Homo sapiens: one gene and its partner. The protein of the gene in region 2 interacts with the protein of the main gene of each other region in a biochemical or structural test. Each region holds a gene or a part of one and is shown on either strand. Other genes may lie near its edges.

Region 1 (3,582 bases), on a different chromosome or scaffold from region 2:
GAAATGCCAGAAGCCTTTGCTCATTTGCCCACCTAGTGGTAAGAGCTTCCTCCTTTGAAGGGTCTTAAAGCACTTTATACTGCTTTTTACTCAGATTAAATTATAATAAATTCAATTCAGTTTACATATTAAATGCATATATTTGGTGCAGGGGGAAACAGGAATTGAGAGACAGGAAAAGTCAAAAAGATTACACTAGAGTGGTTGGGCGCAGTGGCTCACACCTGTAATCCCAGCACTTTGGGAGGCCAAGGTGGGTGGATCAACTGAAGTCAGGAGTTCAGGACCAGCCTGGCCAACATGGTGACACCCCGTCTCTACTAAAAATACAAAAATTCGCTGGGCGTGGTGGCGGGCACCTGTAATCCCAACTACTTGGAAGGCTGAGCCAGGAGAATTGCTTGAACCTGGGAGGCAGAGGTTGCAGTGAGCAGAGATCGCGCCATTGCACTCCAGCCTGGGTGACAAGAGCAAAACTCCGTATCAAAAAAAAAAAAGAAAAAAAAGAAAAAGAAAATTACACTAGAGTAAGCAGCAGCACCAGAGCACGCACAGACCAGAAGCTGTGAGGAAAGGGGTGCGCTGGACAGGGACAGAGGGAGCCCCAGGTGGACGGACAGAAGATTTCGCCTTCTATTCTATTGACCTGTAGGCCAGGCTTCCCTGCGTCTCCAGATGGTGGCCCTCGTGAGTACATTTCCTCATATTTGCGTCCTAGACCACACCCAATAAATACAGTGACTTTTGCTCATACACTCAATGAGTTCATTAAACTGTCACTTCCCAATATTTGAAATGAGACAGCCCATAGCAGTCAAGATGAGAGAAAGGCAAAATTTGTGCCATTTATTTAGGAATTTCAGATAAATTGTCATAAAAGCAAATACTTTAAAAATTGGTTGTATTCATCCAAATTAAAGTTACAAAGGCAAATTTATTTTCCCACAGATCACTTTCAATTAGCGTTGAAACATTTAAATTCCTAAGAGGTGTATTTTAATAAATTATTTAGCTCAAAATGTTTAATGCTTTAAAAGCATCTATAATATGTGAAATTCTGTTCCAAATCAAACTGTCATTGTAACAGCACATTTGTTCCCAGAGTGTCATGATGACAAACTGGCCTAATATGGATTTATTTTTAAAAGAGCTTAAAAATGAAATCACAAATGATGTCATAAATTTCTTTCATGGCTCGAATACCCTGCTTCATTTATTTTATAGTAATTATGTTGCATTACAATTCAAGCAATTACATTAATTAGATCATTGATTCTTTGAATTAATCCCATTTTACAAATCTTGGTGAAAATTAATTAAGCCACAGACTCCCCACAGGTGCGGCTGTCAGGTAGCTCACATAAAGCTTTAGCACCAGTGTTCATGTGTGCCTGGGGGGTGTGTGGTGTCTGGGCGGAGAAGGAAAAAGGGAATTTCCTTTTTTCTTTTATGAACTTCACCAGATAAGAGTCATTAAATCATCTAATTATAATTATACACATTATAAGTTCATCTATTCCATTCTCAAATCTATGTAACTCCAGACATATGGACAATCTACCCATTTTTACAGATATCCAGGACTGTATGCAACAAGCTTAATAATGCATTCTGAAATGTAAAATAATGTCTGTTCATGGGTAAGAATTTCTTCTCTGTTGAATATAGTTCCAATCCTTACTGTGGCAGAATCATAGAATCATAGGATGTTAAAATTGAGAGATGGGTTAATGATCTCCCTGGATAATTCCTACTTTTTAAAGATGAGAAAACAAAAATATAGAGTTAAATTGGATGAAGTCGTACGACTACTTAGTGAAAGAGTCAGGATTATACCAATGCTATGAACTGGTGAGTGTTGTTCAATGTTATTTCCCTGAGAAAGCTCCTGTGCTCCTACAGATACGAGACTCAGAAACTGGGCCCTGTGGCTACGTCCTGGCTTACAGCCTCTCCAGGCACAATTCTGAAGAAGCGTATTTGAACTAGAACATTCTAAAGAGAAGATGGGGGAGGAAAACACCTAAGTCAGTATGCTGGCAACAAGACGAACAGCGATCAGCCTTGTGGTGATTAAAGGCACCAACTATAAAATGCACAGTCAATATTTGTTCCCAGGAATAAAACCTTAAAGTGGAAGTGAAATATGGCACAGATATGAATAAAATAAGGTAACAGACAACTAAAATGTCAGCTTGCTGGGAGTACCTTCCTCAGAACTAGTCCTGTGAGTCCCTTCTGGGAATGACACAGCAGCACGACGTTGCTTTTCTGTTTATCGCGATTATGTCTCTACTTCTCCCCATCTCCCACAGCCCCAGCTATCACCTCGGTGAGGACACTGCCTGTCTTAGATATCTTCTCCCTCCACCTTGAACAGTACCTGGCCGAGGGTTAATCGATGCACAGTGGGTTTATATTGTGTCAACTTCGCGAAGCTGAAAAGACTTTTCCTTGCACCGCTCCGGGTTAGTGTTCCCCACAAGAGGCAATTGCGTGAGATTTTGAAGGCGGAAGTGCAGCAGTAGCTTGCTCTCTGCCCTCAGTATGTCTGTGTCAAGTGCCAGACGCCACCACAAGCTCGGCACTCCGAGTCTCATCTGCTGCCCTGCAGGGGGTGGGTGACGGCAGTGTGCTCACAGCTTCTCCAGCTCCTGCTCACCTCCTCCTGGCTTGAGATTCGACCATCCTCCAGAGCTCCAGTCCCTCCTCCCAGGTTCTAGCTTCCCCTGCGTCCCCTCCTAACATCCAGCTTTCCTTCTTAAATCCGTGGACTTTAGACAGCAGCACCAGACACAGAAGCGAAAACCTCAAATACGCTATTTAATCAGCTCACACAACTGCTCTAGCAATTTTACTTCTTGGATTGATTGAACCCAGACTGATACAGAATTTGGTTCTGGAAGTGGACCAAGGAGAACCTTCAGGATGGTTTCTCTGTATTGGTTTTGGGTTACCTGCAGTCGATTCTGTAATAGGACTAGCTTTAAAGTATTAGAAATCCTATTTCCAGTAGTTAAGGGACACTGGTAGTCACGGCCTGCAGGGGCAAAAGAATTCCTTAAAAGACCACCTGGGCTGGGTGTGGCAGCTCACGCCTGTAATCCCAGCACTTTGGGAGGCCGAGGCGGGGGATCACGAGGTCACGAGATCAAGACCATCCTGGCCAACATGGTGAAACCCCATCTCTACTAAAAATACAAAAATTAGCTGGGCGTGGTGGTGCGCACCTGTAGTCCCAGCTACTAGGGAGGCTGAGGCAGGAGAATCGCTTGAACCCAGAAGGCGAAGGTTGCAGTGAGCTGAGATCGTGCCACTGCACTCCAGCCTGGCAACAGAGCAAGACTCCATTAAAAAAAAAAAAAAAAAAAAAGGCCACCTGTATTCACCTTCCAAGGTGAAAACAATGTCATTGCATCACCCTCCAACCACTAAGATGAAAAACAAAATATACCAACCATACAAAGGGTTGGACGTATTAAACCAACCCATTTCCTGAGTGACTCAAAAAGCTGTCAGTGTTGACTGGAGCCCAGAACAAGGCCCTGAAGGCTGCTCAGCCACCTGATCCATCTGATCCAA
Region 2 (5,252 bases):
GAGTACAGTAAAGCAATGAGTTACTAAAACTGTAGATCCCCATTTAAATAAATGAATTCTAAACTTGGATTTCTGCAGTGAGATTTTTTTTTAGGAGAAAGCTCCAATGTTCTGTGAGTGATTATTACATTCTCATTAGCAGGGAAGACACTAGGTGCTGAAAGAACACTTTATTAGCTGTTAAAATCAGTAATAGAAGCACTTTATACCCTATAGTATCACACCCACATGCAGTTTCAGTTCAGCTTTATGTTAGTGGGAGATATTATAATACTGATGACAATTTTCTGGGTGCTGTTTTCTTAACCCCCACACTCTTGCCTTCTACAGGGGATGTGATTGTAAGTGTGAATGACACCTGTGTTTTGGGACACACACATGCTCAAGTTGTGAAGATCTTCCAGTCCATCCCCATTGGTGCCAGCGTGGACCTTGAACTCTGCCGAGGTTATCCATTGCCTTTTGATCCAGATGACCCCAATACAAGTTTAGTGACCTCGGTAGCCATTTTGGATAAAGAACCAATTATTGTGAATGGGCAAGAGACCTATGATTCACCAGCTAGCCACAGTAGTAAAACAGGCAAAGTCAATGGCATGAAGGATGCCAGGCCAAGCAGCCCAGCGGACGTGGCTTCAAATAGTTCTCATGGTTATCCTAATGACACTGTTTCTTTGGCTTCCTCCATAGCCACTCAGCCAGAACTCATAACTGTTCATATTGTCAAAGGGCCAATGGGCTTTGGTTTTACTATCGCAGACAGTCCTGGTGGGGGTGGCCAAAGAGTGAAACAGATTGTTGACAGCCCAAGGTGCCGAGGCCTGAAAGAAGGGGATCTCATAGTGGAAGTTAATAAGAAGAACGTGCAGGCCCTAACTCACAACCAAGTGGTGGATATGCTGGTTGAGTGTCCTAAGGGAAGTGAGGTCACATTGTTGGTGCAACGAGGAGGTAAGTAGGGTTGTTTTGTTCTTTGAATTTTTTTTTTATCCCAAATTCATTGCTTAACTTACTCATCTTCAGATGACCACTGGGGGCTTTTTAAATTTATTTAAATGTTTCAAAATGCCTACTGATTTCTCCAAATACTAACCTCTTTAGCATAAAAATTGTGGTTTATACATTATGACAGACATATGCAGTTAGAATGATACCTTAAAACAGAAATCAGATTTTGCCTTTTTAAAATGTTAAGATTTAAAAACCTAAGTTGGGTGTGGTGGTACCCACCTGTAGTCCTGGCTGCTTGAGAGGCTGAGGCAGGAAGATCACTTGAGCCCAGGCATTTGAGTCCAGACTGGGCAACATATTGAGACCCCATTCTCTAAAAAGTTTTTTTATATATATATAAAAAATAATAACCTTTATCCTTTAAATCTCCTGAACTTGGCCTGCATAGCCTGCAAAATGTGGCTATGGTCACTCCAAACTTGTCTCATGTTCCTCTCCTCCATCTGATGGTGCTTTAGCCACACTGGCTGCTTTTATGGAGCTCCTTTAATGCTTCAAGCCTTTTCTTGCCTCAGGCCCTTTGTATTTACTGTCCGTTCTGCCTGGAATGGTCCTTTCCCAGCTCTTCCCAGCTGGCTCAGTCCCATTCAGGTCTCCTTATGAGAGAGGGCTTCTCCCATCACTTTATCTAAAGTAGCTCCCAACACTTCCATATAATCTTTATCACAGTTTTTCATAACCTTGATCATCATCACCTTTTTAGCACAAGACGTTATTTCATGCTTTTATTTATTTTTCATTATTTGTCTTTCATTAGAATATAAAGCTCCATAAAGCCAGGGCCCATGTGTGCATGTGGACAGCTGTTATCCCCAGCATTTAACACAACACCTGACTCCTTTTAGGTATTTATGAATGAATAGGTATTAAGTGAATAGGTATGTGATTATTTCTATTTGGCAGAAACAAGAGGTCTGCTAATCATATTAAACACTTCCCTCCACATGCTCGCGTTTAGTAGTTTAGGATCTCAGAGATCTGGGTTATTCTAAATCTCGAGGCATTAAGCTTCCTCCTTTCTCCTTGAGTCCGTATCCCACCCTCTGCCTCACCAGAAAACACAGGACGTCACACTGAGCAATACTTTCCACCATATTGAAGTGTCTTGCTCCTGGAATATATACTTATATGTGATTAGTCGTGACTGATAGTTTTACACAGTGGGCCTGAGAATGGCTGTTTCCCTGATCCTTGCTACCATGATTTGTTTCATGAACAACATATTCAGGCCTTTTGAAAAGAGATCAAGAACCAGACTTTGACTTCCTTTTGGTTTGTTGCAACAGGAGAGCTCATTTGTGTCACAGCAGCCAGATTCTCATGTTTTCATGAACCTGTGTGTTCTGCGATCAGAATGGCTGGGGTCATTTGAAGGAAACCCAAAATACAGAGTAGCTGTCTATGTGAATTGAAATGCTCAATGAGCCTGGCTTAGGCAGTTATAAAAGGCATTGTGCAAATTTTATTTTTTTTAAAATGTCATTTCCACCAACTAATTTTCAAGTCTCTTCTTGTACCTAGATCACTTGACTGCTCAGAGAACTGGTTTTAAACAGTAGCCAAGATGTATGTAGTAGGAAATGACTTGGGTATAAGAACGATTATGACAATAATGATGATGGTGATGATGAAACCTGGCACTTATAGAAGAATCAGTGATACACAAAGCACTTTCATACCTGCACGTGCCTCTCCACTGATATTTGTCACTTCCCTGTGAGGTAGGAAGGTGCCACCCCACAGTAGTTCTGAGCTGTTCACCCTGGCTCTGTGGTTTCCAGTCCAATGTTCTGCCCTACTTAACTGAATAACACTGATTTTTGTATAGTTGCTTAATACTGAGGCTGACAGCCTGGAAACTTTCAAATAATTCTTGGTACATCAGGTGCACCTCTGATTCAGCCACTGCTCATTTGACAGACACAAACCACCTTGTTCTCCTAACTCATCTATCCTCTTTCTCATTTCTGTTATTGATGTGGTTTATTATCCCATTAGATTCACTTCTAAGGAGACCAAACATAAAGTTTCATTATAGCCAACTAACTTACACATGTATTAGAACCATATTGTAATGAATTCGCCTAAGCCAGCAAACAACTGATTATAGAAACGTACTCCTTGATTTTATTTTTTATTTTTATTTTTGAGACAGGGTCTCACTTTGTCACCCAGGCTGGAGTGCAGTGGTGCCATCTCAGCTCACTGCAGCCTCAACCTCCTAGTTTCAAGCGATCTTCCTGCCTTAGCCCCCCAAGTAGCTGAGACTATAGGTGCATGCCACCACTCCCGGCTGATTTTTGTATTTTCAGTAGAAATGATTTCTCCATGTTACCCATGCTGGTCTCGAACTCCCGCGCTCAAGGGATCCACCTGCCTCGGCCTCCCGAAGTGCTAGGATTACAGGCATGAGCCACCACACCTGACTATACTCCTTGATTTTAAATATGTTTGCATTCTCTCTTCTTAATTCCCAATGCCATCTTCTCATTAATGGTGTTACATTTTATAACATTTATATGAAAAATCCGGAATATATTGCCATATTCATCAACATCTACATGGTTTATTTCAGAACATGAGTAATTTAAAATCACTGTGACATCAGCAGTCTTTAAAATACACCATATGTCTTGTGTATGATTTATGTATAGGATAGAAAGTTTGTACATCTGCAGTTGGCAGGCTAGCACTAGATACTATTAATCTTTCTGGAAGGCATATAAATATATCTGTTTCTGCCATACATTAGTTGCTTGAATCAGGGCTGACATTTAATCATCTCTTCTGTATAGTGGGGATGTAATGAGAAGGCTTGATGAAGGTGCTTCAAGACAACAGCTAGGTTCAATGAGAAAGTAAATGCCCACTTTACCGATTCTTTCTAATGAATCTAGTTTATTTTGTAACTGCTAGTAAGATGACTGATAAACTCATCTACACTGTTCCATGAGTCTCAGGAATTCCTGTCGTGAGGTTGTGGCTTTCTATGCTTTAAAGAACGGGCCATTTTTACTTTGGGACAGAACTGGCTGCTATGTTTGTAGCACCCATTTTAATTCCTCATCTCTAGAGCTCGTTTTTGACATTTGTTCTTGTCAAGATCTAATACATTTCATTTTTAGTAGTTTTAGTCCATCCCCCTTCCCTCATCTGGAAATCGAGCTGAAGGTTGAAATATCATTTGTAAATGTCCAGGGTCAGACAGTTTCCTGAGTCAGGCTTAGAGCTGCTGTGCAGTGTTCATCCATACTCCCAAGTAGCCGGGACCAGTCCTGATTTGCTTACAAATCTCCTCTTCATCAACATCTCCCTGCTTGCCAGTCGATCACTCAGGTTTTTAAAGGGCAGTTCTTCTCTGTGTCTGGCTCCCCTCTTCCAATTGTGTGTCCTTACTCCTTCTCCCTCTGCTGTCCAGTCAGGAAAGTGCTTTTTACCCTTCTATTTTGAACATAGCATCTGCATTCAGAAATCCTGTCACCTGACATCAGTGTGCATCTAGAGACTTCTTTGAAGTGTTTGGAAAATCAAACTAGTTTGTGGATTTTTATTTTTAATTTGTAAAAGCTATCGAACTTGTCCCATAAGGATTTTTTACTTTTTTTAAAAAAGGCTCATGTAGATAGCGTAACTACCTGTGCCCCTCTGTGTCAAATATTTTGGATATTCGGCAAATTCACACCTATCAGTAGGTGTGACACTCTTTAAAATGTAATTTCATGTTGAGTCACAACACTCCGTTTCAAGAAAAGATTTGGCAGCACTGTATGCAAGTGAAGATCCTATGTTTTACTTTTGAGAGAAGGCATGTATTAAAAAGAAAACTGAACTTGGGATACCAGGAGCTGACCTTGAGTACAAACTCTGCCCGTAAGCTTCTGCATATGCTTCAGAAGGGTACTACTTCTACCCTGACACTTATTTTTTTAATCTAAAAGATGAATGTTTTGAGCTAGAGAATCTTTCAGGCACTCCATTCTGGCTCAAATTTTATGCAAGGGATGACCTTATTGTTGTATAGAGGAAAGACCACAGGACTGTGGAGACAGAGGATGCAAGTTTAAATCCTGGCTTCTGCTCTACTTGCATTGTGACTTTAGGCAAGTCACTTGCCTTCTCTGAGCTTAGTTAGACTTCTGAAAAAAATGGGCATGATGTACATAGATTAAATAAGGTAGCATTTGTGCCAATTCCTGACGTAGTAGTCATCACATGATAAAGCAATAGTGGCAATTGGGTGG

What was found. Proteins that work in one complex are often made in the same cells at the same time.
Region 1: the proteins of MAGI1 (region 2) and MTNR1A interact in a test that uses a peptide from one of them, tested with the Homo sapiens proteins (one large-scale study listed by IntAct).

What each region holds. Positions count from the first base shown.
Region 1 is NC_000004.12:186,535,862-186,539,443, forward strand, and holds part of MTNR1A (melatonin receptor type 1A), read right to left. Parts: intron 2,851-3,582; exon of another isoform or gene 2,384-2,850; intron 1-2,383.
Region 2 is NC_000003.12:65,425,219-65,430,470, reverse strand, and holds part of MAGI1 (membrane-associated guanylate kinase, WW and PDZ domain-containing protein 1), read left to right. Parts: intron 1-330; coding exon 331-951; intron 952-5,252. UniProt on the Homo sapiens protein: Plays a role in coupling actin fibers to cell junctions in endothelial cells, via its interaction with AMOTL2 and CDH5. May regulate acid-induced ASIC3 currents by modulating its expression at the cell surface.